Linked DNA regions of Homo sapiens: regions 2, 3, 4 and 5 are each linked to region 1. The links come from fine-mapping of genetic effects on gene expression. A gene starts in region 1. Each other region holds a variant in brackets. All regions are shown on one strand. Distances are between the middles of the regions. Region 1 holds the start of KDM7A (lysine demethylase 7A). Region 2 overlaps LOC124901758 (a long non-coding RNA gene). Region 3 holds the start of LOC107986854 (a long non-coding RNA gene). Region 4 has its middle 47 kb from the start of KDM7A-DT. Region 5 holds the start of LOC124901757 (a long non-coding RNA gene).

Evidence for each region.
Region 2: its variant is fine-mapped to the expression of KDM7A in whole blood (INTERVAL, PIP above 0.99).
Region 3: its variant is fine-mapped to the expression of KDM7A in monocytes (TOPMed, PIP 0.95).
Region 4: its variant is fine-mapped to the expression of KDM7A in whole blood (INTERVAL, PIP above 0.99).
Region 5: its variant is fine-mapped to the expression of KDM7A in whole blood (INTERVAL, PIP above 0.99).

The regions. Positions count from the first base shown.
Region 1 is chr7:140,173,803-140,179,743 of GRCh38, reverse strand. It overlaps KDM7A (lysine demethylase 7A), which reads left to right and starts at 2,761. Exons shown (of 20, transcript NM_030647.2): 1 at 2,761-3,000. The coding sequence starts at 2,807. KDM7A-DT (KDM7A divergent transcript) reads right to left here and starts at 2,483. Exons shown (of 1, transcript NR_024451.1): 1 at 104-2,483. RefSeq lists silencers at 2,353-2,782, 2,823-2,922, 3,563-3,742, 3,753-4,032 and an enhancer at 2,205-3,128.
Region 2 is chr7:140,302,478-140,308,418 of GRCh38, reverse strand. It overlaps LOC124901758 (a long non-coding RNA gene), which reads left to right. Exons shown (of 2, transcript XR_007060560.1): 2 at 5,862-5,941. Among named protein-coding and RNA genes, the nearest start is that of SLC37A3, 93 kb to the left of the region's middle. The variant T/G (reference allele first, on the strand shown) is at 2,516.
Region 3 is chr7:140,228,363-140,234,303 of GRCh38, reverse strand. LOC107986854 (a long non-coding RNA gene) reads right to left here and starts at 2,818. Exons shown (of 2, transcript XR_001745386.2): 1 at 2,683-2,818. RefSeq lists silencers at 2,882-2,931, 2,982-3,031, 3,612-3,771. The variant C/G (reference allele first, on the strand shown) is at 2,646.
Region 4 is chr7:140,221,607-140,227,547 of GRCh38, reverse strand. No RefSeq gene overlaps it. Among named protein-coding and RNA genes, the nearest start is that of KDM7A-DT, 47 kb to the right of the region's middle. The variant G/T (reference allele first, on the strand shown) is at 3,531.
Region 5 is chr7:140,079,135-140,085,075 of GRCh38, reverse strand. It overlaps LOC124901757 (a long non-coding RNA gene), which reads right to left and starts at 2,279. Exons shown (of 2, transcript XR_007060559.1): 1 at 2,223-2,279; 2 at 1,488-1,892. KDM7A (lysine demethylase 7A) reads left to right here. Exons shown (of 20, transcript NM_030647.2): 20 at 1-330. The variant G/TG (reference allele first, on the strand shown) is at 2,728.

The DNA of each region.
Region 1 (5,941 bases):
TGGAGGTTGCAGTGAGCTGAGATCGCACCACTGCACTCCAGCCTGAGCGACAGACCCAGACTTCATCTCAAAAAAAAAAAAGAGAAAAATATCTGAGACTGTGTAATTTGTAAAGGAAAGAAGTTTAATTGGCTCATGGAAGGCAGGCTGTACAGGAAGCATGATGCTGGCATCTGCTCAGCTTCTGGGGAGGCCTCGGGAAACTTACAATCATGGCTGAAGACAAATTGCATCATATAGCCGGGGCAGGAGCAAAAGAGAGAGGGAGGAGGTGCCACATATTTTTCAATGACCAGATTTCTTAAGAACTCACTCATTACCACGGGGACAATACAAAGTGGATGGTACTAAACCATTCATAAGAAATCCACCCCCATGATCCAGTCACCTCCCACCAGTCCCCACCTCCAACATTGGGGATTACAATTCAACATGAGATTTGGGTGGGGACACAGATCCAAGTCATATGGATAACCAATCTCTCATTGTTGCTGCTGCCTCCTGCTCTGCTGGGCTTCCTTCTTCATACCCCTGCCTAGTCCCTCCATGTTAACATAGCAAGTCCAGGTGGCCCCCAGAGGACATCCCACAACAGGCTGCTTTGGTGCTCTTTAGCCAGACTCCAACAAGACAGCTTTGCATGCCTTCTCTTCACTGCTGTATTGTCTCGACAACACACACCTTCAACAAAGTACATTTAAAAATACATTGTCTTTTTGCTCCATGTAAAACCTCTGTGAGATAATTAAGGCATTACTAGCCATATTTTTTCTTTCAACAGATCATCAGTGATCTAGTTCAGGAGAAATGGAGTGACTGGCCCGAGGTCACAGATTATAGAAAGCAGGACCTGAGTGCATGGGTCTTTCCACTCCAGCAATATGTGATGCCTATGCCAAAATTACAGTACCTTTTTTTCTCCAGTAGAAATATGTTTCAAGCTTAATCAGTGTGTGGTCAACTAATTTCCAGCCTTTCCTTTTCCCGCTATATATATGCCAAACAGTGATGTGATAGAAAAACGAATAGTTGCAGAATTGAGACACTTAAAAACTTCAGTTACAGCTCTAATATATGAGACTTCAGTCAAGTTACTAGCTTTCCTCAACTATAAAAAGGAGATTAGGCAGGACTTGGTGGCTCACGCCTGTAATCCCAGCACTTTGAGAGGCCGAGGCGGGCGGATCACTTGAGGTCAGGAGTTCAAACAGCCTGGCCAACATGGTGAAACCCCGTCTCTATTAAAAATACAAAATTACCCGGGTGCGGTGGCGTGCGCCTGTAATCCCAGCTACTTGGGAGGCTGAGGCAGGAGGATCCCTCGAACCCGGGAGGTGGAAGTTGCAATGAGCCGAGATCACAGCACTGCACTGCACTCCAGCGCGGGCAACAAGAACGAAACTCCGTTTCAAAGAAAGAAAGGAAAGAAAGGAAAGGAAAGGAAAGGAAAGGGAGGGAGGGAAGGAAGGAAGGAAGGAAGGAAGGAAGGAAGGAAGGAAGGAAGGAAAGAAAGGAAAGAAAGAAAGAAATGGAGAATTAGATCAGCGACTCTTTGCCTGGGGGTGGGTGACAGAACAACACTTCTTCCTCCCCTAACAAAAATTACCTATGGAGCTGTGAGGGCTTTCCCCACTGATAGAAATGCCAGCAGAAATTCAGCTACAAATACTCAATCCAATAATCCTTAACATCACTTCCAATCCACAGTTATGATTCCAACGCAATCTTTTCTATACAGTATTTGTCAGCTGTTTTTATTCTTCAGTTTATCATCTTATATTTGGCTCTCAATTTCACCCATAAATTATTGATGGCTTATTATACGCCAAGTACCCTGCGCTCCGCTTTTTGTGGTATCCCTCTTCGGAGCGAGAAGTCACTTAGAATTTTACCCCATCTTCCCCACTTGGGAATCGGAAGGGTTCATAGCTAAGTTTTGTTATTTATAAGCACGCCGGCTCTTCTCTATCCCTCTCTCCACCAACCCCATTTCAAGGTTGGTCCCTCCCAGCGGACGACAGTGATGAATTCCTCTTGGGGACAGCCCTCCCGCAACTAACGGTGGCTCCATCGACGCTCTGGTCTCCTTGCTGCTCGCTGGGAATTCGGGTGGGACGTTTTCCAAAGTTTGGATTCCACGGCACATTCCTCCCTCGGAAAGGCACAACCGGCTCGGCGTGTCAGCTCAGCTGGACTCACGCCGGTGCGGGGCCGCAGCTCCGGTTCTCGCTGGGCGGCTGCGGAGGGCTGGGCGATTCTCTCAGCGTCGCGAGGCGACCCGGGCAGCAGCAAACTTCTCCGCTTCCCCTCTTCGGGACGCGGCACCTCTTCTGCCCTTGAGCACTCCGCAGGAACTTCCCCCGGCCTCGGCTCTCGCTCCGAAATAACCGAGCCAGCTCCTCGCACGCTCCCGCCGTCCTCCTCCGGCTGCGGCCGCGCGCCCGCCGCCACCGCCACCACCGCGCGTGTCCTCACGGGGCCTCAGCTCCCTCCGCCCCCGCAGCCGCCTGCGTGCCCTTCAACAGCTCCCTCCGCCCGGCCGTCGCGGAGAGGAGCGGGGAGCGCGCGCCGGCGCCAGAGACGTGCGCGAGACGCACGGCCCCGCGCCGAGCGCCGGAAGCAGCCGAGTCTGGGCCTCGCGCGTCGCGCGCGCCTCCTCCCCCTCCGCCAGCCGCCGCGGCCTCGCGCGCGCGCACTGAGGCGCCGCCGCCGCCGCGGCTGCTGCAGGAGGCGGCGCTGGCTGGCGGCTGCGCTCGCTCCAGTCGGCGAGCGGAGTAGCGAGCGAGCGTGTGTGTGTTTTTTAAAGATGGCCGGAGCGGCGGCGGCGGTGGCCGCGGGAGCAGCAGCTGGAGCCGCCGCGGCAGCCGTGTCGGTGGCGGCTCCCGGCCGGGCCTCGGCGCCTCCGCCGCCCCCGCCCGTGTACTGTGTGTGCCGGCAGCCGTACGACGTGAACCGCTTCATGATCGAGTGCGATATCTGCAAGGACTGGTTCCACGGCAGGTAAATAAACCCCCTCCAGCCCCGCAGCCGCCACCGCCGGCCACCGACCAACCGCCGCCGCCGCCGGCCGCCCGCGCCTCCCTCGGGCCGGGCCGCCGCGCCGCGCCCAGCTTTCAGGGGGCCCCGGTGCCTAGCCCCCCGGCCGGGCAGTGGGGCGCGCGGTGCCCCGGGTTCGCCGGGCGGGCTCCAGAGGGGAGCCGGTGGGCTCGCCTGGCCCGGGCGAAGAGTCGCCACAACAAACACGAACAAAGAGGGCCGGCGGATAAGTTGGCAGGGGGAGCCTGGGGCGAGGGGACGCGGCCGGGCGGGCGCGGCGGGGGCGTCGGGCGGAGCGCCGGCCGGGTCCGCAGCCCCTCGCCAGCCCGGGCCGCCGCCGCCCCGCCCCGCCCCGCCGCGCCCGGGGCTCCGGCCGGAGTCGCCGGCCGCCCCGCCGCTCTGCCCGGCCGGCCGACGCGCCTGCCTTCCTTCCGGGCGGCGATGGGGTCGCCCCGGCCCCGCGTCTCCTCCGCGCCGCGGGTCCCTGTCGCGCCCCCTTCCCCGTCTTTATCAAACTTCCTGGGCCAGTGGGACGGGGGCAGCGGCGGGCCGGAGAGGCGACCGCGCCAGCCAGCTCGGCGGGGCTCCGCGGAGTAAACAGAGCAACAGATGAGGCACTCGCTCTCGGGGACTTGAAAGGTGCCGGGGAAGTTGGGGCCGGGCCCCCGGCGGGCGGCAGGTTGACCCGGGTCGCGGTCCTGGGCCCCCGCACACACCCGGGTCGCCGGGACTGGGGCAGATGGAGTGGGTTGCGGCGGCCCGAAGGGAACGCTTCTCCGGACCCCCTGCGTTGCCCTCGCGCCGCGGCTTAAACTTTACAAAGAGTGCAGTTGCCATCGCTCGAAGCTGGCGACACCGGGACCGCCTGCGGCTGTGCCCGGGCGCCGGTGCCGGCGAACTTGAGTCGGCCGGGCGGACGCTGCGGGGCCGGCTGGCGGCGGCGGCGGACGCTGCCCTCTGATTCAGCCGCCGCCGCGCTCCGGGTTTGACGTTTGAGAGCTCGGGCCGCCTCCGCAGCCAGGCCGCCGACTCGTGTGTTTTGTAATCAAAGTGTGAGGCTAATAAAGGGCGGCGCCACAGCCTCTTGACTCCGGCGTGGGAGGGATTCACAGGCATTTAAACAAAGAAACTAGTTGGGGTTGGGCTCCCAAAGTCCTTATTTGGGTGTTGTGGCAAAGCCTGCGGTCACCTTTAGTTGAAGCCGGTTTCCCGGGCCCCGTTTGGTGTTGTCTCTTGGCGAGAGCACGCTCACGAGTAATAGCAGATATGGTGACTGTGATTGTAGGAAGTGTCTTTTGATTGACAGCAGGACATTTAAATACAGCCTCCGCTCCCCCCCTCCCCAATTTTACAGAAACACTACAAGACCAGGCCAGATGTCTTAGTCTCCCTCTACTGGTCCAGGGAGAGAAAACCATGTAAATCACAATGTTCTTTGCAGTGTTTAGTGCTAGGTGTAGTTAAGTTTTACTTAATTTTCAAGTACAGTTTTACTTAATCAGTTTTCAGGCTAGCCGATTCTCACAACAGAAAACAAGACACAGTAAATTATCACTTTAAAAGAAAGGCAGCGTCCTCGTTTCGTATAATCTTTAGCAGTCTTGTATATCCAATTCTATTTCCACATCCTGTTTCCATAACATATTCTACGCAACTAGAATAAAGATTATCCGAACATTTAGGTTCTATATAGAATAAAATCAGAATCCCTGGTGATTATGTAAATGCTTATTTTTTTTCAAAGAACTATTTTTTGAAATTTGAGGCGGTTTAAACTGCATAAAAATTTGTCTCGCCAGGCTTGGTGGCTCACGCCTGTAATCCCAGCACTTTGGGAGGCTGAGGCGGGTGGATCACGAGGTAAAGAGATCGAGACCATCCTGGCTAACATGGTGAAACCCCAACATGGTGAAACCCCGTCTCTACTAAAAATACAAAAATTAGCTGGGCGTGGTGGTGCATGTCTGTAACCCTAGCTACTTGGGAGGCTGAGGCAGGAGAATCTTTTGAACCCGGGAAGCGGAGGTTGCAGTGAGCCGAGATCGCGCCACTGCACTCCAGCCTGGCGACAGAGTGAGACTCCGTCTCAAAAAAAAAGAAAAAAGAAACTTGTCTCATTATGCAATGCGGATTTGATAGGCTACCAAATTTTAGACTAGAATTGTATTTATCTTAATTTAGGTCACTTAACACTATAACCATGAAAAGCCCCAGGTATTTGATGGAGAATTTTGTAATACATGTAAGTATACACTTGTAAATAGGGAAATAGGAAATACAGAGGGCTTACGGGAAGGAGGGAGAGCAAGGCCAAAACAAATATGCCCTCTCTGCTTTGACACATAAATTTGTGTAACTTTATATCTGTGGAAGTGAGTCTAAAATAGGTTTTTTTGAGCCCAGGGTCTTTTTGACCATCAATCCTTGAAACTTATGTGGTTCAGATGTCAAAAGTTAGAAAATTTAGCTATATTGTCCTGCCCTACAAAAGCAGTATCTTTTTATTAAGTTTAATTCTTTTTCTTTTTCTTTTTTTTTTTTTTGGAGACGGAGTCTCGCTCTGTCACCCAGGCTGGAGTGCAGTGGCGCCATCTCTGCTCACTGCAAACTCCGCCTCCCGGGTTCAAGTGATTCTTCTGCCTCAGCCTCCCGAGTAGCTGGGATTACAGGTGCCCGTCACCACGCCTGGCTAATTTTTGTATTTTTAGTAGGAACGGGATTTCACCATGTTGGCTACACTGGTTTCGAACTCTTGACCTCAGGTTATCCGCCCACCTCGGCCTCCCAAAGTGCTGGGATTACAGGTGTGAGCCACCCTGCCCGGCCTAGTAAGTTTAATTCTTAAGTATTGGTAATTTGGACTCTGTATGTTTTTCCCGTGGTATTTACTCTGATGTTTACTGTA
Region 2 (5,941 bases), 130 kb before region 1:
TATATTTTCATATGATTGTTTGAAGAGTTTCATGGAAAAAGTGCAAGCCCCTCAAACTTCCCGAACTGTGTGAGCTGTTTACTGTTGAGAACTTTCCAGAGGAAAGTTGGAGGGAGCAGAAAGCTGAGGAGAAGGAGCTGGACTTTGGGCTTTGTTTGCCTGTACTCTCTCCACTGTTACCTTCAACCTACATTTCAGCTCCAGTCCATAGGAGTCATTTGCAACCATCTGTTTTCATCTCTTTGCTCCCAGGAGTGCGGAAAAAGGCAAGAGCAGGGAGGAGCTGAAGTTTTGCAGAGGTTAGGGAGAAGGTTGGCTTGACCTAAGTGGAGAGAGAGGAGGGCGGGTTTTTTTTGTTTTGTTTTGTTTTGTTTTTTTGTTTTTTTGAGACGGAGTTTTGCTTTTGTCGACCAGGCTGGAGTGCAATGGCATGATCTTGGCCCACTGCAACCTCTGCCTCCTGGGTTCAAGTGATTCTCCTGCCTCAGCCTCCTGAGTGGCTGGGATTACAGGTGCCCACCACCGCACCCAGCTAATTTTTGTATTTTTAGTAGAGACAGGGTTTCACCATGTTGGCCAGGCTAGTCTCAAACTCCTGGCCTCAAGGGATCCACCCGCCTCGGCCTCCCAAAGTGCTCGGATGACAGGCATGAGCCACCGTGCCCGGCTGAGAGCTGGGATTTGAACCACTGTCAGTTCCTGAACAGAGATTTAAGAGATTGATGAGCACTAGATGAAATCTTAATCCTCCGTCATTGCTGGTGCTTATGTAGACGTGGGAGAATAGGAGGATAACAGTATCCAAACAGGCTGATAGTATTTCAGGAGCTTCCATGGGTTGCTTGAGTCCTCAGGGCTAGGCATGGTGCTAACAGCTTTATGTGCATGCGGCACCTGCCGGCTGCCCTGCTTCTCTATCCTATGTGCGATGGGAATTCATTCTTTTACCTGGCCTGGGCTCTTCCATTTTGCTTTTCAAAAACCCACATTTACAATAGACTCTCATTTTTACAGTAAAGCGTACCATAGAATCACTTTACATTGCAAGTTCTCCCTCCTCCTATAGTGCAATTAATCTACTCTATTCAATTGGCAGAAAGTCTGTTTACAAAGAGCTCTGTGAGAGGACACTTGTCTTCAAAGCACGGAAACAGAAATAACAGAAAGACTCAGCTTCATTGATGGCCCACTTACCGCAGGCAATATTTAATGCAATATAATTAATTGTACTTCTAGAAAAGACTGGACTGAGGGCCTAGGAGCTTTTTATAACCGATTGAAAGACACCAGAGACTCTACCCCTAATGTCCAGCCAGAACCCGCCCCTAGCCCACAATACAGCCAGGCGCACTTTTTTTTTTTAAGCTATCCATTTAAAAAAAAAGATTTTCCAAGGCGAGCACATTATTTCCTTTGTTAGTTTGGATCAGAGTCTGATATCCCTAACAAGTCAAAGTTGTTCTTTTTAGCCCTTCCGACAATTTGAGTCTGTTCCTTTGAAGTTGTGCTCTCGGTGGAGATGGAAAAGAGACTCACCTTTCAGCGTATGGAAACTCTGTTCCATTCCTGTGAACTGTTAATGCGCACATTTAAATCATTGCTACTTTCTTCTCTGGTGTTAGTTTCTGACCTCTTGGTTATTTTCTGTTTTCCATTGGACTTTTCGGTTGCTCCCTGTTTCTTTTTAAAAGTAGCACCTCAGTCTGTTCACACTAGAAAATGTTTGGCTTATTTTGCATGTCCCTTTTCTCAAAGGATAAAGGGAACAACCGTTCCTACGAATTGCTGACATCTCTGTGGAGGCCAGCTGCTAAGTGAAGGAAAGCGTGGCCGTGACTTGCAGGAGATCAGAGGCCCCCAGGCTCCTTCAGGCCAACCGACATCCAGATGAGGGCTTCTTGCTTCTTTTAGATCCATGCTCTGAACCCAGATGATGGTCTTGGATGGCTGCTGTAGTCAGGACTCTAGCCAACCTAACCCATGTGCCTTATGTTAACTTACAGTATTAAGCAAACATTTGCTTGTTAATCTACAATCTTTTTTTTGTTGTTGAGATGGAGTCTCACTCTGTCACCCAGGCTGGAGTGCAGTGGCATCATCTCGGCCCACTGCAGCCTCTGCTTTGTGGGTTCAACCAATTCTCCTGCCTCAGCCCCCTGAGTGGCTGGGACTACAGGCACCTGCCACCATGCCCGACTAATTTTTGCATTTTTAGTAGAGACGGGGTTTCACCATGTTGGCCAGGCTGATCTCAAACTCCTGACCTCAAGTGGTCTGCCTGCCTCAGCCTCCCAAAGTGCCAGGATTACAGGTATAAGCCACTGTGCTTGGCCTAATCTGCAATCATTATTCCAAGTTCTTGCCACTACCCTTAAGCAGGTTCTATGTGAGTGGTCCTCCTGATCTGCAGTGGACTGCTGCTTTAACTTGGCTGAATAACAACTATTATACCACACCCTTGTGTCCTGCAATGCAGTTTAGACACATGAGAAAATAGTACGAACCTCAGCCCAGT[T/G]CAGTGGCTCATGCCTGTAGTCTCAACACTTTGGGAGACCAAGGTGGGAGGATCACTTGAGCCCAGGAGTTCGAGACCAGCCTGGCCAACATAATGAGACTCTATCTCTACTAAAAAAATAAAAAAAATAAAAAAATAATTGACCAGGCATGGTGGTGCATACCTGTGGTCCTAGCTACTCGGGAGGGAGGATAGGAGGTCCAGGCTGCAGTGAGCTGTGATCATGTCACTGCACTCCAGCCTGGGTGACAGAGCAAGACTCTGTCTCAAAAAGAAAAAAGAAAAAAAGCCGGGCATGGTGGCTCATGCTTGTAATCCCAGCACTTTGGGAGGCCAAGACAGGTGGGATCACCTGAGATCAGGAGTTCAAGACCAGCCTGGCCAACATGGTGAGACCCTGTCTCTACTAAAAATACAAAAATTAGCTGGGCATAGTGGTGGATGGCTGTAATCCCAGCTACTTGGGAGGCTGAGGCAGGAAGATTGCTTGAATCCGGGAGGCGGAGGTTGCGGTGAGCTGAGATTGCGCCATTGCACTCCAGCCTTGGTGACAGAGCGAGACTCCGTCACACACACACACACACACACACACACACACACACACACACACACACAAAAGAGGATATAGAACCAGCCCTGTAGATTTTGTGCCAGCTCTCAGGGGACTTCCTGCACCACTTGGACTATCATTCTTCCAGATCAGGTGTCCCCAGGGATCGTCTGCAGTGGTTACAAACAACACTTCACAAAATGTTAATAGCCACGAATCTATTTTAATGTGTATTAGAAAAAAATATGGCTGGGCATGGTGGCTCATACCTGTAATCTCAGCACTTTGGGAGGGCGAAGTGGGCAGATCACTTGAGCCCAGGAGTTCAAGACCAGCCTAGGTGACATGGCAAAATTCTGGCTCTACAAAAACACAAAAATTAGCCAGGTGTAGTGGCATACGCCTGTAGTCCCAGCTACTTGGGAGGCTGAGGTGGGAGGATGGCTTGAGCCTGGGGGGCAGAGGTTGCCATGAGCTGAGATAGTGCCACTGCACTCCAGCTTGGGCAACAGAGTGACACCCTGTCTCAAAAAGAAAAATTATAACATGCACATAAAACCTGAGACATGCATTTCTTTTCAAAAGTCATCAAAGTTAAAAAGTGAGTCCTATTTAGAGACTATTAACCAAGTAACTCTAGGAGGCAGTGTGTGACTACGGAGAACACCCTGAAGGCCTAAAACCCCTTATGGGGAGGCTCTGAAGGCCACCCCAAGCCCTTTCATTTTTCACTCCTCCATCTTCATTACTCCTTCTCTCTCCAAGTTCTTCATCTTCTGGGCCTGTTTCTCCTTCCCTTCCTCCCTCTAAGCTTCTCTGGTGGTGCCCTGGGTTTTAACAGGGAGAAGGAAAGAGGCTCACATTTAGTGATCATGAATTACTTGCTAGAAGGTCACAGATGTAAGGCAGATACTGTCTACTAGTGGGGCTTTGGGTGATTTCTCTGGAGTACTTTTTGAATTTGCATGTGTGAGTCACCTGAAGATCTGGTTAAAGTGCAGATTCTAGCCCAGATGGTCTGGAGTGGGGCTGAGATGTTTTCATTTCTAGCAATCTCCAAATGATGCTGCGGTGGTTGGTTCGTGGGCCACACTTGGAGTCACAAAGGTTGATCATGGAGCTCTATTTCTTTTTTCCTTTTTTCCTTTTTTTTTTTTTTTTTTTTTGAGATGCACTCTTGCTCTGTCGCCCAGGCTAGAGTGCAGTGGCGCAATCTCAGCTCACTGCAACCTCCCCGCCTCCCGAGTTCAAGAGATTCTCCTGTCTCAGCCTCCTGAGTAGCTGGGACTACAGGCGCATGCCACCACGCTCAGCTAATTTTTTGTAATTTTAGTAGAGGCGGGGTTTCACCATATTGGTCAGGCTGGTCTCGAACTCCTGACCTCAGGTGATCCACCCACGTCGGCCTCCCAAAGTGCTGAGATTACAGGCGTGAGGCACTGCGCTAGGCCATGGAGCTCTATTTCTTTAGAGAACTAAGAACAGAGAAATACATATTTTAGGAAGAGGATGAGTTCTGAAACCACCTCTATCATCTGCAGTGAAGCCAATTATTAAGAACACTTAAGAGTCTAGCATGTTTTGCTCTCTGGAAGAAATATAAGATGGTTCCTTTATACTGACCAAGGCAGTTTGTAATGAAAACTGTTGGCTCAACTTGTTGCTAGGGTACCGCTGGGGAACTGGCACACAGAAAATCTGTAACCTAATGTGATTGTGTGGGAACTAATGAGCTCTGAACATGACAGGCAGGGAGGGTTCTGCTTCCCTCCTTTGCTCAGGTGATGGGCTAACACCCATGTCCAATTAGGCAAACCTGGCATGTGTAGCCATTCGGGGCTGCTGCAGAGCTGTTTCTCTGGGTAGAGAAAATTGGATTGTTGAATTGTTCCAAATATATTGGTATGCTCCCGTCTCCCATCCATTTGGTTATGATAACCAGACCTGCAGACACGTTCTGAGGGTTAGAATAGCTCCAGCATTTAGAAAACAAGCCAGCCAAATACAAAAGGACCCAGATTGAGGTTATATGAAAATTGATGGACGTGATTCAGGACCTTGCTATTTTAAATGAAATGACCTTCACCTGAAGAGATCAGAGGGCGACGCTATTAAGAGGTGTTGCACTTTTACAGTATTCTTTCTGTTAGGGCAGAAAAACTTATGGAAGGAAAAAGGCAAAGTGAATCACCTTTTCTTAAGATTCAGCTGGAACCAGACACTTAGCAAAAGTGATGCTCTGCAGCTGACACAAGTAGCCACATGATTGTGGAATGATAGTGCTCCAAAATGTTCTTGGGGGCTGGATGTGGGGGCTCACACCTGTAATCCCAGCACTTTGGGAGGCCAAGGCAGGCACATCACTCGAGGTCAGGAGTTCGAGACCAGCCTGGCCAACATGGGGAAACTCCGTCTCTACTAAAAATACAAAAATTAGTCAGGTGTGGTGGCAGGTGCCTGTAATGCCAACTACTCGGGAGGCTGAGGCAGGAGGATTGCTTGAACCTGGGAGGCGGAGGTTGCAGTGAGCCGAGATTGCACCACTGCACTCCAGCCTGGGTGACAGAGGGAGGCTCTGTCTCAAAAAAACAAACAAACAAAAAAATTATTGGGTATTACTGAGCATGATGGTGTTTAATTTTGGGAGGGGATGGGGGTAGTTATTCCGGACTCCCTTCCCCTCGAATACACACATGCATAATCTTCCATATAATTTCCAGGGATTAATGGATTCCCTGGGAGATCCAGGGATTTCAGGTTAGAAACCTCTGATGTAATACATTTCCTCCTTTTCAGAGATGAGAAAATCAAGGCCCAGAAAGAAGGTGACTGACTATTGGTCTCAGCAACACTGACAGTGAACAAATCAAACAAGA
Region 3 (5,941 bases), 55 kb before region 1:
GTATTTTTAGTAGAGACGGGGTTTCACCGTGGTCTCGATCTCCTGACCTCGTGATCCGCCCGCCTCGGCCTCCCAAAGTGCTGGGATTACAGGCGTGAGCCACCGCGCCCGGCCGTATTGTTTAATTTTTAAACTGACTTTTACTTACATAGAGCAGTAAAGTACACAAAACTTAAGGACACAGTCTGATGAATTTCAACACCACACACACAAACATATACCTCTATCATCCAGATCAAGAATGTTCCCAGCCTCCACAAGCCAAATATGTAATTAAAAATGTCCTACTAGGCATATTAACGCAATAAAAGTAGAAAGCTGGGGCGTGGTGGCTCACGCCTATAGTCCCAGCTATTAAGGAGGGTGAGGTGGGAGGACTGCTTGAGGCCAGGAGTTTGAGGCCACCCTGGGCAACATAATGAGACCCCCACCTCTAAAACAAAATTAGCCAGGGGACGGTGGGGTGTGCCTGTAGTCCTAACTGTTCAGGAGCCTGAGGTGGGAAGATTACTGGAGCCCAGGAATTCCTGGCTGTAGTGAGCTATGATTGTGTCACTGTACTTCAGCCTGGGAGACAGTGAGATGAAGAAAGAAAAGAAAGAAAAGAGAAGAGAAGGGAAGAGAAGGAAAGAGAAAGAAAGGAGGGAGGGAGGGAAGGAAGGAAGGAGAGAAAAAGCTGAAATTAATTGTAATAATCTATTTGACTTAACCCAATAGATCTAAAATACTTTAATACATAATCAATGTTGAAAGTATTAATGATTACATTTTTTTCCTTACTGAGTCTTTGAAGTCCAATGTTTGTTTGACACATACAACACATCTCAATTTGGACTAGCCAGACTTCAAGTGCTCAACGGCCCCATGTGGCTAGTGGCTAATGTACTGGACAGCTCAGGTCTAGAAAGCAAGGGCTGATAAATGAAAAGGAAGCAAATAGCATCCATTGATAGGAATACAAGTTGTGTAGGATGTAAGCCACTGACTTTGAGTGCCGATTTCTTAGTTTTATTTTAGTGAAAATAAAATCAGTTCACACCCAGTATCAGTTCCCTAACCCTATATTCCCCTAAGGTCCCAGATTACTCAACATAGGATATTCCTACCACAAAGAGTTTTCGTTCCCTTTTGGACCCTCTTATGAAGAGTTGTCATTCTTCACATTCTTAGGCATGATGGACCTCTGAATGACAGGTTCCCATCTGACCAAAAAGCCTCCAATTTCAGCTTTGAGTTATTTCAGACTTTTCAGATGGAAGTCATTTTATATCTGTGGTTTCAAACCTGACCAGTCATCTAAATCACTTGAGTATTTAAAACAAAAAACATAACACGCGCCCTGGACCTGCTGAATCCCAATCCAGAGATGCGCTCGGTGATGTGTATTTTTAAACGCCTTCACAGATGACTGTGATGGGCTTTCAGCCCTGGGAACCACTGAGCATCATCTGCTTTGCTGAAAAGATCCAGAGACTTCATCAGGCACCATAGCAGAGACACAGCAAGGCCCCGACTGACAAATCCTCTAGGAGAAACACTCCTATTAAAAATGTTGTAGCCTTGGCCGGGCTCAGTGGTTCATGCCTGTAAACCCAGCACGTTGGGAGGCCGAGGTGGGAGGATCACCTGAGGTCAGGAGTTCGAGACCAGCCTGGCCAACATAGTGAAACCCCGTCTCTACTAAACATACAAAAATTAGCCTGGTGTGGTGGCAGGCGCCTGTAGTCCCAGCTACTTGGAAGCCTGAGGCAGGAGAATCGCTTGAACCCGGGAGAAGGAGGTTGCAGTGAGCCAAGATTACAACACTCCAGCCTGGGTGACAGAGCAAGACTCAAATTAAATAAATAAATAAATAAATAAATAAATGTAGCCGCGGGGGGACGGGGAGGAAGTTGTTTATTTCCTCATGGCTGGGATAATGGCAGTAGTGGAGGTAGAAGCTTCTTGGGTGCAGCCTATTTTAGGCAGGCCGAGCCCAGTCCATGGAACAGGAAACAGTATCTGCAGGTGGGGGACCAACATGAGAGAGGACCACGGGTCTCGAGTTGGCCTGAGGGTGTGGGTAAGGAGGAAATGCACAGTGGGTAACCCGCCCGCCCCTACACACATTCTGTTTTTTTACTTCTGGCTTTTCTGGCAGTCAGTGAACTCTCTTAATCTTAAGGCATGGCGTGTAATAGCAGAGCAAACCTGTGTTGCAAAGGGACAACCTGAAAGAGCATGACTGAAGGGGAAATAAAACTCACCCGGTCCTTCTGGATTTCAGTTTAATCACTGGGTGTGCCCTTGGCACCAGGATCATAAAACAGACCTGGTTTCCTTCCTTTGATGTAGTTAAAGAGCCCTGGATTTGTCGTCGGGGCACCTGAGTTCCAGTCCCAAACCTGTACTAAGCAGCTGTGCCACCATGTGCCTAGGATTTAACTTACCTGAGCCTCACTTCCCCTGCTGGTAAAATGAGTAATCAAACCCATCTTGTGGGTTACAGTGATGGCTGGGTAAAGTAATGCATGGGAAAGCAATTTAGAAACGATCAAACACGACACAAAGGGAAGACCACCGTTTACAGAAGGGAAAGTGACGCAGGACACAGAAAGCGGGAGAAACCGTTCGCCAGCTCCTAGATTCCTCACCTCTGCCCTCCC[C/G]CTGTCCTCCCTTCCCCCTCCACGGCAGGGGCCTTACCAACAGCAGGCGCTCTAATCCGCCTGGGCACACACCTGTCCTGGGCTGCTGGGAAGACGCCCCCCGCCCCGCCTAACAAACACACAGAAGTCTCCGGGCCGGGACACCATAAACGTTTCTAGTGGCAAGTCCTCACGGCCCGCGGGCTTCCATTGGCTCGGGAACCCCCTGAGCCTATTTTTCATTGGCTGGCTACTGCTGGGATGAGGAGAGGCAGTCTCAGCCGAGAGTCACTTAGGGCTGCGTGCCCTTTCCTGCCCACCTCCCCGAAGCGGCCCGGGAAGCCCCACTGCTCCCTGCGCGCTCCCTGCGCGCTCCCTGCGCGTCCCGGCCGCGCGCCTGCAGATCCTGCCCGCCCGGCAGCCGTCCCAGGCCGGGAAACAGTAGCCGCCACTCAAATCCGCCCCTTCATCGCCCAGTCCCGCAGTGGACATCTTTCTGGTCCCCCACCCAGAACTGAGCATCACTCCCCCGGTCACGCACATGAGCTGCGCCTCTGTCACTTTTGTCACTCAGTCCCCTTCCTAACTCCTCCCCCCACCCGCAGATTGAAGGGTGCAGTGATCTCCTGGCTCGGTCCCGAATAACGCTGGGTTTAAGTGCACTGGGCCCCAGTTGACAACCAAATAAAGTGGAAACACGTGCGCACCACTCACAGAAAGTATTTCCATTCCGCAGAAGCAACACCTACGGCCCCCACGCCCCCCAGCTCCGAGCCAGAGAACCGGCCCTCTAGGGAAGCCGCCGCCCTTCCCCATCGGGCTGTCATTGTTCCCCGGTCACTTCGGGCGGCGACCCCCACGGCCCGGCCCGCGCGCCCCGACAGCCCCCGCCCGCGGGACCAGCAGCCGCGGCAGGGCACGGGACACCCTTTCCCTGGCGGGGCGGCGTGGGGGCGGCGCTGCCAATCGCTGCGCAGCGCACGTGCTGCACGTCTGCGCATCCGGCCCCGCCCGGCCGGCGTGGTGTGGGGTTGCGGGGGTGCGGGGGCGCGAGGCGCAGCGGCGGTGTGGACGCGCGAGGGTCGAGGGATGCGCGCGTCGCGGGGTGGAGTGCGCGGTGCTTCGGACCCCGGGGCGGCGAGAGTGCGCCGGGGGGCAGTGCGAACGCCCAGGAGTGGGGAGTGCGCAGAGATCTGGGGGTGGCAGAGGACGAGCGCGCCAGCGGGGACCACGGGGGGACCCGAGGGCCCACAAAAGGGTCCGTTCCCCCCTATGCGATGGCTGAGCACCGGGAAACTCCCCAGCGGTCTCCGCCTGTCTCTATCCCTCTCTTACTAGAAACTTGCCACAGCTGGTGGGCGCGGGCCCGCTGCCCTGCACGTCCACCGCCAGATCAGCCCAGGGCCCGCGCCCGGAGGCCAGGGAGCTGGAGGTCAAAGCTTGGTCTCCTGACACCTGTTCAGGAGAAAGCGGATCTTTGTTTGAGGGCCCTCCTTCCGCCACCCACCGCCCCCGCCCCCAACCCCGCCTCCAGCCTAGAAGAGGAGTATTTCAGGTTGCGATTTTCAAACGGAATCATCAAATGTGTAAACTAAAGGGCGGAAGCCCAGGAGTCAAAACAGCCGTGGTATGGTCTTGACAGAGGGCAGAGAGGAAGAGAGGGGTGCCACCTGCTCAGGGCCAGACGCTGATTGAGGGCGCGCCCTGGGAGGGGCGCTTCCTGGTGCTCATTAGTGGAAGGGTGAAATGGGAAGGCAGCAGGGCCGACTTGCTCTCGGCAGAGGGACATTTTCATTCTTCGGTGTGCTGTTTGGGCCCCAGAGAGCTCCACGTCCCAGCGTGGAGGCCAGTGATGTAGCTGGAGCGAGCTGTGAGCTCCTGGAGCTGTTTCGTTGTTTACCCTCCTTGAAAGGAATGCTGTAACAACTTCCGGAAGAGGAGCCCCTTTGAAGTGTGGGCAGGATTGGGGTTCCTCTGACTTCACGTTGTCTAGGTGGCCCCTTTGATGTGGTGACAGGGCTTAGCAGAGACTGGCTGTGGGGAGTCAAACGCCAGTCCAAGGTCACCTCCACCAGGATGGACATACTGAAGGGCAGATTGAAATAGGCCAAAACGAATCTCAAAATTTTCCATTTCCTGGTTTGTTCATTTTTTCATTAATACAGTACGTACTTCTCAAATGTATCATTCGATTCTTTATAACTATGAAATGACGTTGGAAAACTTTGGGTGAAAATGCTATACCTACATTTATCTCATTTAATCCTCACAATAACTATTAGGTGGGTATTATCCCCACTTTATGGAAGAGAAATTGAAGGCCTAGGGTCACGCAGCTATGTGACTGAAAGCCTTCCTTCTTGAACTGCTCCTTCTCTAAAAGTTAATTGGTTTATTTAAATGAGTCAACCCACACAAAACAGATGGGTGTCTGGCACACGGTAAATGTGCAATGAACTGTTAGTTGTACTTGTCACCTTTTTTTGTTGAGACAGTGTTTTCCGTCTTACCGCGCAGGCTGGAGTGTAGTGGCACAATCTAGGCTCCCTGCAACCTCCGCCTCCTAGGTTCAAGCGATTCTCCTGCCTCAGCCTCCCAAATAGCTGGGATTACAGGCTCCCGCCGCCACACCCAGCTAATTTTTTTTTTTAATTTTATTTTGAGACGGAGTCTCGCTCTGTCACACAGGCTGAAGTGCAATGGCGTGATCTTGGCTCACTGCAACCTCCGCCTCCCGGGTTCAAGTGATTCTCCTGCCTCAGCCTCCTGAGTAGCTGGGATTACAGGCGCACGCCACCATGCCCGGCTAATTTTTATATTTTTAGTAGAGACGGGGTTTCACCATGTTAGTCAGGCTGGTCTCGAACTCCTGACCTCGTGATCCGTCCACCTCAGCCTCCCAAAGTGCTGGGATTACAGGCGTGAGCCATTGTGCCTGGCTTTTTTTTTTTTTTTTTTTTTTTTTTTTTGTATTTTTTAGTAGATACAGGGTTTCGCCGTGTTGGCCAGGCTGGTCTCTAACTCCTGACCTCAGGTGATCCCTACATCTTGGCCTCCCAAATTGCTGAGATTGCAGGCGTAAGCCACCGCGCCTGGCCTCTTGTCACTTTTTATTACAAATAAGAAGCTTAAACGTTCTCTATATTGCTGTGGCAAGTACTACAAGAGTCTTAGGCAGCAGATCGTGAAGAACTGTTTGAGAAATGTTTTAGGGTTTTGCTTTTCTCTGATTAGAACCATCTCCAAACGGTGTTGGAACTGGAGTTCCTGAGTAAGATGCTTTCAGACAAAATATACAATGTCTTTCTCTAGAGATC
Region 4 (5,941 bases), 48 kb before region 1:
GCCCAGGCTGGTCTTGAACTCCTGGGCTCAAGGGATCCTTCCGACTTGACCTCCCAAAGAGTTAGGATTACAGGTGTGAGCCACCACGCCCAGCCCAGCGGGGGCCTCTCTTTTGAGTCAAAGGCGGTTTGGAGGTCTAGCACAGCCCTGCTTTGCTCTGGACATGATTCAATGAAAGAAGATAAAAAGTAACACCTGGTAATAGTAAAATAGTAACAAATGGTATTTATTAAATACCTACTGTGTTCTAGGCACTGTGCTAGGAGATTCACATGCTTTATGTCATGTAAGCCTATGATGTGGGTTACTATTATTAGTCCCACTTTACAGGTAGGGAAACAGCCACAGGGAGGTTAAGTTGTCCATTACCCAACTAGGAAGTGGCCCCATGAGCAGAGGACTCAAGCTTCTAGTGTACTCAGCCACTGGAGGATGATCCTTTTGTGCTGAGATTCAGTTTACGAGTTCTATTATGGGGGAAGTTGGGGGCTTCCTGGTCTCAATCTATCTAAGGCCAGCTTGTCCAGCCCATGGGCTGTCTGCGGCCCAGGACAGCTTTGAATGTGGCCCAACACAAATTTGTTAACTTTCTTTAAATGTCATGAGACTTTTTTGTGTGATTTTATTTATTTATTTTAGTTCATCAGCTATTGTTAATATATTTTATGTGTGGTCCAAGACAATTCTTCTTTTTCCAGTATGGCCCAGGGAAGCCAAAAGATCGGACACCCCTGATCTAAGAAGAAGGAGGAAAGGACTGGCTGGATCAATGGGAGAGGGAGAAGAGATAAGGCTCAATTAGTGAGCAGGGATCTGTGCAAAGGAATCAGGACATAGGCACAGCAGCACCACAGGGTGACAGGTGTTAATGTGGGGGCTGAGGGGAGGGAGCAAGAGTACCTTTCAGTGGGTGTGTGTTCAGGGAGAAATGAAGAGAGTTGGGGCTGTTGCAGAGTTGAATTGGGAGCTCTGGGAGCAAGTGTACCAGTCAGTATTATAGGAAGGCAGCCATGTTAAGACACAGGACCTGCAGGGTGGCCAATTTGTTTTAAAGTATATGACAATAACACTCCACAGTTTTAACAGTTTGTTGGGCTAAATTGTGTTCCTCCTACTGCTACTGCCCCCCGCATTCATATGCTGAAGTCCTTACCCCCAGTACCTCAGAATGTGACCTTATTTGGAAATATGGTCATTGCACATGTAATTAGTTAAGATGAGTTCATACTGGAGTAGGGTGGTCCCTGATCCATTAGGCCAGGTGCAGTGGCTCCTGCCTATAATCCTAGAACTTTGGGAGGCTGGGGTAGGAGGATCGATTGGGCCTAGGAGTTTGAGACCAGCCTGGGCAACATAGTGAGACACTATCTCTACAGAGAATACAAAATTTTTAACAAACTAGCCAGGTGCAGTGTCATATGCCTGTGGCCCCAGCTTAACTCAGGAGGCTGAGGTAGGAGGATTGCTTGAGCCAGGGAGGTCAAGGCTACAGTGAGCTATGATTGCACCACTATACCCCAGCCTGGGTAACAGAATGAGACCCCATCTCAAAAATAAAAATAAAAACTAAAGAAGGAAATTTGGGCACAGATATGCACACAGGGAGAATGGCATGTGAAGATGAAGGCAGAGATCAGGGTGCTTCTTCTACAAGCCAAGGAACCCCATAGATTGCTGGCAACCACCAGCAGCTCAGGGAGATGCCTGGAACAGATTCTCACTCACAGCCCTCAGAGGGAACCCATCCTGCTGACATCCGGATCTCGGCCGTCCAGCCTCCAGAACTGTGAGACAATGCTTTACTGTTGTTTAAGCTGCCTAGTCTGTAGTACTTTGTTACTTTGCTCTAGCAAAGTAATACACATGGCAACGTATCTGATGACAGCTCTAGCTGTGATAGAGCCCTGAGGTTTTTGAAACCTGCCTTTGTAGAGGCTGAGAAAATCTGTTTTCTTTCATTTTCCTTTTCTTTTTTTTTTTTTTTTGGTTTCTTTTTTTGAGACAGGGTCTTACTCTGTTGCAAAGACTGGAGTGCAGCAGCGTGATCATGACTTATTGCTGCCTCTACCTCCCAGGTTTCTCAGTAGCTGGGGCTGCAGACACACACCACCTGCCTGGCTAATTTTTTAAATTTTTTTTAGAGATGAGGTCTCACTATGTTGTCCAGGCTGGTCTTGAACTCTTGGGCTCAAGTTATCTGCCCACCTTGGTCTCCCAAATTGTTGGGATTACAGGTGTGAGCCACCATGCCTGGTCAGGACTTGTTTTATATAAAATTATCTCTAACAGAATGCTACATGTACATAGCTATAAAAAGCAAAGTAGAATAAATACATAAAAAGTATAATGAAAAATTACAATTGCGCTTAGCCTCTTGTTCCCCAAGGCTGTCTTCCTGAAGGCCGGCACTGCCAACTCTGTAGCCATTTTTCTTGTATTTTCCACCATTTTTCTAAACAATATGCTTACATTACTATTTCTTTTCTTTCCTTTTTTTTTTTTTTTTTTTTTGAGATGGAGTCTCACTCTGTTGCCCAGACTGGAGTACAGTGGGGTGACCTCAGCTCACTGCAGCCTCTGCCTCCCAGGTTCAAGCAATTCTCCTGCCTCAGCCTCCCAAGTAGCTGGGATCACAAGTGTGCGCCACTATACTTAGCTAATTTTTGTATTTTTAGTAGAGATGGGGTTCCACCATGTTGGCCAGGCTGGTCTCGAACTCCTGACCTCAGGTGATCTGCTTGCCTCAGCCTCCCAAAGTGCTGGAATTACAGGTGTGCTGGAATTACAGGTGTGAGCCACCACGTCCAGCCACATTACTGTTTCTTGATTTTCGACTTTGCACACTACTTGTTAACTTCCAATCATGGTAGCGGAGGAAACGCTCTCCTTCCTATACCCCCTTCTGTATCCTTGTATTCCAGTACTTTATGAAATAAATGACAACTGTTCACATTATTAGGAGGAGGTATGTAGTGTTAGGAGGGGGCATGGCTCACCTCTGAGCCATGTAGTGTTCTAGGACAACACTCTGTGATTAAACAACCCTTTTCTCCTTCTGGACTTAATGGCAGTTTCTTTTTTGCATTTGTCTGATTTTCTCTGAACCTATGTGTTCCCCCATTGCCCTAGCACCTCTGCCACACTGCAATCAACAGTATTTTTTGACTCTGAATGCTTTATTTTTTTTTCCCTAGGTGGTCCCTCTGGCCTCCTCCTCCAACGTGGACAGAGGTGCCTTAGGCTGCAGCGTGGCCCAGCTCCTGAGAGGGAGGAGGAGGTGTCTTTTGAAAGTGGCCAGCAGTTTTCTGGGTTTGGAGGTGGATGTTTCAGTTCACTGTGGGGGTGAAGTCCTTTGGTTTCATGAAGGCCTCCGGGACAGGCAGCTGTGCTCTCTTGTTGTTCCCCTCTGAGGGGCTTCACAGTTCTGGCTTGGGCGTGTTAATCAGGCATTCAGGCTGAGGCAGTCCTGAGTCCAGGGGAGATGTTGTCTGAAGGTGTGAACGGCTGAGCTCACTCCTGTGGAAACTGAT[G/T]TTTTTGTCAGTGGTTGTTTTTTTGGCAGGGTGTGGGAGTTGTTGCTGAAAGTTGCTTGCAGGAGATAACGGAGTGGCTGAGGGTGGAAGGTGCATTTTCTCCATCCGTGCACAGAATCAGCACTGCTGGGTCACGCAGGGTGTAGGGATCTAGAGCACCAACGGAGCCCCGGACCTGGAGCCTGGCAGCCCCATGGGCACTGTGTCTTAGAGGTAGTGGCCCCAAGGCTCGTATTGGTGGACCTCAAGCCACAGAAGACAGGCCAGAGGAAGGATACAATGATGACTGGGACTGATTGGTTCAACAGATGTCGGGGACCCTTTTGAGGACTCCCTGAAAGACCCAGGGAATACTTCTGCAGGGCTGGGGCTGAGGGCCTGCGCTCATCAGGGGCCTCAGAATCGTTGTGACATGGGGTATCCGTGCAAAGGGATCTCACGTCTCCCCAGACTGCTGGACACTGGGTGTATGAGCATATTCCCTTCAGAATGATTCACAGCGATAGGCAGGGTATTTTTACCCCCATTGACAGCCAAAGAGTCTGAATCTCAAAGAGGCTTCAGTCCTTAAGTGGCAGAAGTGGAATGAGACCCCAGGTCAGGTGCTTTCCCACTTCCACAGAAGATAGAAGTCACGTTGCTAGAAAGTAACAGGGGAAGTAACGGTCCCATTGGACCATTTAGGGTCCTAGGAATGAAATATTTATTATGTTCAGTTCTGGGAATCGCGTTTTAAGAGAAGCAAGAACTTACTTCCTACAGGGAAATCAGGTTCGTGAAAGAGACCGGGGGTGCCTTTTCTGGCTTTTGTAACATCAGAGGGTCCTCCCCAGTCAGTGTTAGCAGCCCTGGGAAGCAGAGTTCTCTAGGGCTTCCAGACTCGACCCCAGTGTTGTCACCGGGCACCATGGTATGCTCAGTGCCATGGGCAAGCGTGGCTGTCATCTGCCCAGGGCCGTCGCCTGTGTAGCTAACGTCCTCTGTAGACAAGCACCCCTCTGTTGCAGCCTCATAAGCAAGGTGATTGTAGATGTCATGCCTGACTAGTTCACCCTTCTCAGGAAGTGAACTTCCTTTTTACTCAGTTTCACAAATATGGGGGTTCATGCAGTCTCCCCTCCCATCCCAGCCAGCTGCCCTGACAGTGGGATAAGGCGCTGACAAGCGGCCGTGTTCCCTCTGCGAACAGGGACAATGTCCCCATGAGTGCTCCCTTCCCAGCTCTGGGGCTAGAGTGTGAAAGGCAGGGTAGCGCTTTAGTGACTGGGGGGCTGTTGATCTCAGACACCAGCTGCTGTGATTCCTAGGACACTTCTTATCAGTGGGACACGAATGGGGGACTCCCACGTTCTGGTCTCTCCAGTCAGGTTGAATTTGTTGTTTTGTTTTTATTTTTGTTTTGAGACAGAGTCTGGCTCTGTCGCCCAGGCTGGAGAGCAGTGGCGTGATCTTGGCTCACTGTAACCTCTGCCTCCCAGATTCAAGCGAGTCTCCTGCCTCAGCCTTCTGAATAGCCGGGATCACAGGCACACGCCGCCACACCTGGCTAATTTTTGTATTTTTAATAGAGACGGGGTTTCACCATGTTGGCCAGGCTGGTCTTGAACTCCTGACCTCAGGTGATCCGCCTGCCTCGGCCTCCCAAAGTGCTGGGATTACAGGCGTGAGCCATTGCGCCCAGCCGAATTTGTTGTTTTTTAACAGGAAAATCCTTACTGAAGTTTCAAGATTCCCATTCTAATGATTTTTAAATCTCTATTGAATTCAATGAATTCAAATCTCTCTCTCTTTTTTTTTTTTTTTTTTTTTTTTTTTTGTGAGACAGAGTCTCGCTCTGTCGCCCAGACTGGAGTGCAATGGCATGATCTTGGCTCACTGTAACCTCTGCCTCCTGGGTTCAAGCGATTCTCCTGCCTCAGCCTCCTGAGTAGCTGGGATTATTGGCACATGCCACTACGCCTGCCTAATTTTTGTATTTTTAGTAGACACAGGGTTTCACCATGTTGGTCAGGCTGGTTTCGAACTCCTGACCACACGATCCGCCCACCTCGGCCTTTCAAAGTGCTGGGATTACAGGCGTGAGCCACCATGCCCGGCCTCTAATCTGTTTATGTTTACAGATTTGTTTTTGCCTCACTCACAGCTACTATTTGTATTTTTACTGAGCTTCTTTGGACAAGGTTAAGGAGCTTCTTTTCCTGACTTCTGTTGATTTTTGGTGCTCCGTGTTTGGAGTTCATAATTACACAACCTCAGGGGTTTTCTGGGGTTAGGGGAAAACAGCAGCTTGAAGGCTCAGGAAGTGGCTGGAGTTCTGGAAATAGAGTCCAGAACATAGACTTAGAAAACCCTGATGAACCTGTGTGACCTGGTCCTCCAAGGACTGAGCAATGTTGCCTCTCCTGGCTCTG
Region 5 (5,941 bases), 95 kb after region 1:
TTGCTGATTCATAACAGTATTTCCCATCTTTTGCCTGCAGGCAGGGAAAGTGTACAGTATTTATTTTGTTTCTGTTTTACTTTAAATTTGTAAGTCTTTAAGTAGCTTACATTGATTATTATAGGGGAGGACAAGTGACTTGTTTAAAGTTGTATTTAGTATTCTTTCCAATTTCTGTATTTTAAAATATTGAAATTAAAATTGTATTACTTCTGTTTTGATTTTTTTAGCACTTAGTGTATTTTTTGCTCATTTTGTTTGAAAGTATAAATGTTGAAAATTGTATAAAATGCGTCCTTGAAAGAAAAAGAATCTGAATTCTATATCCAATTCTGACTTTGTTCCCTTTTTCTGCTGATTGAATCATGGGAAATTATTTAAAAGTATGAAAAACTGGGTTCAGCGTCTGCTCCTTACTACTTCTGAAGACTTCAATGTGAAAAGTAATTGTCTTATTTTATTAGCAGTATTGCTGGGGATGAGTGATTGCTCAAAGAGAGGGAAGAATACAAAAGTGTAATTGGCAACATGAGGCTGAAACGTAGAAACGGATGTGGGTACTTGGCTAATGAACATTTCAGCACACTCACAGCCCCTGCCCAGGCATCCCACAAATATTTCCTAACACCTGCAGTACAGTAGGCACTGTTTTAGCACTAGTGCTGCAGGAGTGAGCAAAACCAAGTCCCAGGCCTCAAGGAGCTTGTGTGAGACACAAAAGGCAAGTGAGAGCCAGGGGTGTGGTGGCCTGGCTGGCTGGTGAAGGTGAGAGTGTTAAGTGCACACTCCGTGAGGAAGATGAGCTCAGTTTTGGACTCAGGGTCTGAGAGACAGGGATGATACGGACCAGGAAAAAGATCTGTCCTTAGAGGAGATGAGAGAGGAACTCTGGACCAGGAAGGAAGGAGCCCTGCAGGCATCACTTCCAGGGCAGAAGAGAAGCCTAGGAAGGAGACAAGTGGGCAGGAAGTCTGTTCCCGAGGAGAAACTGAGCTCAGAGTCCCAGAAACCAAGTGACCAGAAGGACCAAAGACCATACCCTCCCTCCCCCTAATATCTGCAAAAGAACAGGGACGCCAAAGCATGCACACTTAAACACACCTTGAGAGCTGCTTCCGCCCCTAGAACGGAATCCACAAAAGCAGTTTGCATCTCCTGTGTCTGCTTTCATGAAATTGGTTGAAATCTAAATCTGAACAAATCTGCTTGTTTTGTGAAAATCCATATACTATTTGTAAATTTGTGGGTTGTCTGCCCTTCCCAAAGCTCATACGTTAATGAAACAATGATCAGGACCTACTCTTCTTAGACTTTTCAGCTGATTTTTGTGGTTTCACAACAGTGAGACAGCATGAGACACATCACTGTGGGATGTTGATGATAAATGCCAATTATTTTACAGTAGGAAGGATCAAATGCTATGTTACAGACAGGATTTGAAACAGGAGCCCTTACTATCTTTTATTTCATTCCATTTGAGTACTTACTGTGTGCAAGGATATTTTTATTTCTTTCTCAAAATAACCCAGCGAGGTAGGTACTACATTCCTCATCCTACAGATGCATCCAAGGCTCAGAGAGGGCCAATGACACTTCCAGGTTCACATGAATACAGACATTTTCAGTCTGTCTGACTCTAAAGACTATTCTAAGCTGTTTCTCTAAGTATTTTTAACTATATACTTTTAATTAAGGAAGGAATAGATGGTCCTTAGGAATGGTTGGTGTTGTAAAAATTTCTTTGCAGGCGCAACCCACTGTGGATTGAAACTGTAGTTTCTTGTGGAGGTTTTTTGTCACCAGAACCTCTCTTGAGTCCACTTTTCCAGGAGCTGGGCACACTGAAGAAACATCTTCTAGAATTGAGCTCACCTTCTAGTGAATAACATAGGCTGTAAATAAATGACATGTGAGAAGTGCTGTTAGGATACAGGAACCAAATGTGGATTTCCAGAGGCTCAGAGCTGGCATATGAGTAGAGGCCATGCCCAGTGCACCCCTTCCGCCCTTTCTGCTGGACCTAACCATGGCCCCGTGGGGCAGCGCAGCAGCCTCCTTCACAGCCTTGCCCACCCGGGCTGCTCCCTCCTCTCCTGCCCTGGACACCGAAGCCACATCCTGCCCTATCTTCTGCCCCAGCTCTGTAGGTGGTCAACCCAGATAAGGAGGAGAGGAAAAGGTCCTGCTCTGCCCACCATCGCTGATCCTGGGGTGCTGCCTACCCGTGCCTTGCAGAAGCACCATCCACATCTTCCTCTTGATCCACTCCTGGGCTCAAGTCTCTCCTTGCCTTGTCCAGACTCTTCCCAGCCTGTGTCTCCAAAATGCCTTTACACTTTGTAAAGTGCTAGTTCTGAAATTTTATAAAATCAAAAGTTTACATAAATCCTATGCCAGAGTTGAGGAAAAAAAAAAAAAAGAAGGATCTACAAGTGGAAAGTAATATGTGTAAATTCCCTACTTTTTTTTTTTTAAGGCAAATATGACCTGGGACAAAAGACTTGCAATAACAGTAAGAAATAGTATTTGACCCTCTCCTATGCATATTTATTTATTTATTTGAGACACAGTCTTACTCTGTTGCCCAGGCTGGTACGATCTTGGCTCACTGCAGCCTCCACATCCCAGATTCGAGTGATTCTCCTGCCTCAGCCTCCCGAGTAGCTGGGACTGCAGGCGTGCATCACCATGCCCGGCTAATCTGTTTTTTTTCTTGTTTTTTTTTTT[G/TG]TTTTTTTTTTTTTAAGTAGAGATGGCGTTTCACCATGTTGGCCAGGCTGGTCTGGCTCCTTGCCTCAAGCAATCCACCCGCCTTGGCCTCCCAAAGTGCTGGGGTTACAGGTGTGAGTCACCACCCCCAGCTTCCTATGCTCTTATTCTAGAAGCTGTCCTTCCGTTTCTGGGTGCCCTGGAGGAGTCTCGTACATCATATATCAATCCTACCACCATCCTCTCACCTCCCACTTACCACAACCTCCAATTGCAGTTTTCCCATCCAACCTCTAATCTTTGCAAATTTTTGTTTTTTTTTTCCTGAGACAGGATCTTACTCTGTTGCCCAGGCAGCAGTGCAGTGGTGCAGTCACGGCTTACTCCAGCCTCGACCTCCTGGGCTCAAGCCATCCTCTCACCTCAGTCTCCCAAGATGCTGGGACCACAGGCGTGCACCACCACAGCCAGCTAATTTTTAAATTTTTTGTAAAGAAAAATGTTGCCCAGGCTGGTCTCGAACTCCTGGGCCTAAGCAATCCTCCTGCCTTGGCCTTCCAAAGTGCTAAAATTACAGGTGTGAGCCACTGCATGCAGCCCAAATTTTTGTCTCTTACCCTTTGGGACCTGTATTAGGGTTCTCTAGAGGGACAGAACTAATAGGAGATAGATTAGATAGATAGATAGATAGATAGATAGATAGATAGATAGATAGATAGGAATTTATTAACTCAGTATCACAAGGTCCCACAATAGGCCATCTGCAAGCTGGGGAACAAGGAGAGCCAGTCTGAGTTCTAAGACTGAAGAACTTGGAGTCCGATGTTCGAGGGCAGGAAGCATCCAGCATGGGAGAAAGATGTAGGCTGGGAGACCAGGCCAGTGTATTCAACGTTTTTCTGCCTGCTTTATATTCTAACTGTGCTGGCAGCTGATTAGATGGTACCCACTAGATTAAGGATGGGTCTGCCTATCACCTTTGATCTTGTGAGTCTTCATTCTAACCTGTTAGACTCCATGGAATCCGAGGGCTAGGAACACAGACTGCAGTCAGAGTCAAGTGGGTTAAATTCTGGCTCTACCTTTACTAACTGGTCCTGGGCAAATTATATAACCTTGCTGTGCCTCAGTTTTCTGCGACATACTTATCTACCTCACTAGGCTACTGAGTGATTAAATAAATGAAAACATATGGCACACTCAAGGACAGTGCCTGGCACAAGGAGACGCTAACTACTAGCCATCAGATCAAGCTCCTCTCTGTGCTGCTGTATCGAATGCCATCTGAGTTCCACCAGCTGCCAACCAATGCACTTACTCAAGCTACTGCGACGAGTGTGAACACGATTAGACTAAAGGCAGGGCATCCACAAGAGAGCAAAGGGCACGGCTGCCTAAGGGGACAGAATCCTACTGGAGAAGGAAGCCAGAGTCCAGACATAAGCCTGGGAAAGTGCAGAAATCCTGGGACATGGGCTAGGGAGCCTGAGGTATCTTTCAGTTTCTGGAATAAGGCTACCAGGTGGTTAACAGTGGCTGGTTACCTCTGGGAGGATGGGAATCAAAAGGGAGAGATAATTGATGCTGGGCATTTTCACACATTTTACTTTTATGTTTTTGTGGAATTAAGAGAGACAAATGTGTTCTACTGTGAGGTATGTGTTAACTGCGCCCAAGACACACTAATCACACCATCATACCTGTGCACAGCCCGCAAGAAATCAGCCTGCCTGCTCCTGGTGTGTTGCACTGACAGCCCAGTGGGATGGGGTGGGTCAGGGCTGGTGAATGGGGCACGGTAAATCCCAGGGAGCTTGGCTGCGAAGCGCTCCCTCCTCCGCTGCTCTCTACCGAGTCTGGCTTCTATTCCTACCCTTTTCACTTTTTTGGTTACTTTTCCATGTTTCGTCTGTCTTTCCTACCAGCCTGAGTTTAAGGCTAGGATTGGTATTCTCTTATCATCAGCACCTCCCACACATTTTAGTACAAATCTCAAAATAACATTGAGTAAACCCATGAACATGGGTATTCCTCATGCTCTCTCTCCCTTTCCCCACCCCTGCGCACTCTTCGCTCTGCCTCTGGCAGCCATATGGGATGGGGGGAGTGGAAGAGAGAGAGTAAAGAGAAATGGAGAACAATGGGGAAAGAACCCTTTACAATTTGAGGATTCTGCCAACTATTAAGAACTGTAGAAATTCACCAATATGGTGTTAAAAAGAATGAGTATTTCAGGTTTCTTTATGAGAAAAAGGAGGAGGAGTAGATTTTCCTTTAATGAGATCAATTGTGTGAATGAGCTGGATTAAAAATATATACACCTCACTTAGAACCTAAAACTTAATTTTATTGTACTTGCTTTGTAAACTTTATATAGGTGTGCTTCACTTTGAAAATATCAAATATAGTCATGGTTAATGTGTAAAACTATAAAACAGATCAATAAGGTGGTATCAAGTTATGAAAGGACTTTGGCCACCTGCAGATGACACAGAACAGTATTTTCAGAGCTCAGGAAGCCCTCCATGGTTGCTGGGCTCTGCTTTAACTTCTGAGCGGTGTGATGCTTAGGAAAGCAGTTGCTCAGTGGTGCAGGAGGGCTTGCCTTGTAAGACCACAGGCAGCCCCAGAGTGGACAAAGATGTGAGTCTGGGCTGGTTAGGGAGAGAAGCCTGGCAGAAAGCAGGGTGAGCAGAAGGCAAACTCCTGCCTTGGTTCCTGCAGTCCACCTGAATGGACGCAGCTTGCGCCTCGGTATCTGGTTCCAACTCCCCTTCAGTACAAAACTTGCTTCCCTGTGAATGGGCCTCGACAATCTTCAGTTGCCCAGGCCAGGAGTCTGGGTGATCTCAAATCTTCCCTCTTCCCACCACAACCAGTGACTCTCAAAGGCCTGCCGGCTCATCCTCACGTGCCTCAGTCCACCTGCTCCTGGCCTCGCTTCAGCTCTCACTGGAGCTCTTGGGATCAAGACCAAAATCCTTAATGTGGTGAATGAGTCAGATGTAGATTCAGCTGTGAGGGAGAGAAAACCCAGGACACAAATGGCTTAAACAAGATAGAAGGCAGGAGATAGGTGTTCCAGGACTGAGACCACTTCCCGAGGGGGTCAGGGCCAGGATCTGCCCTCTGCTGGCCTGCCGTCCTTGGCACAAGGCTTCACCTCCCCATCCCAGATGGCTGCGTGCAGCCTGCAGCCTCCAGGGGGAGGAAGGGTGACCCTGTAATCACTTTA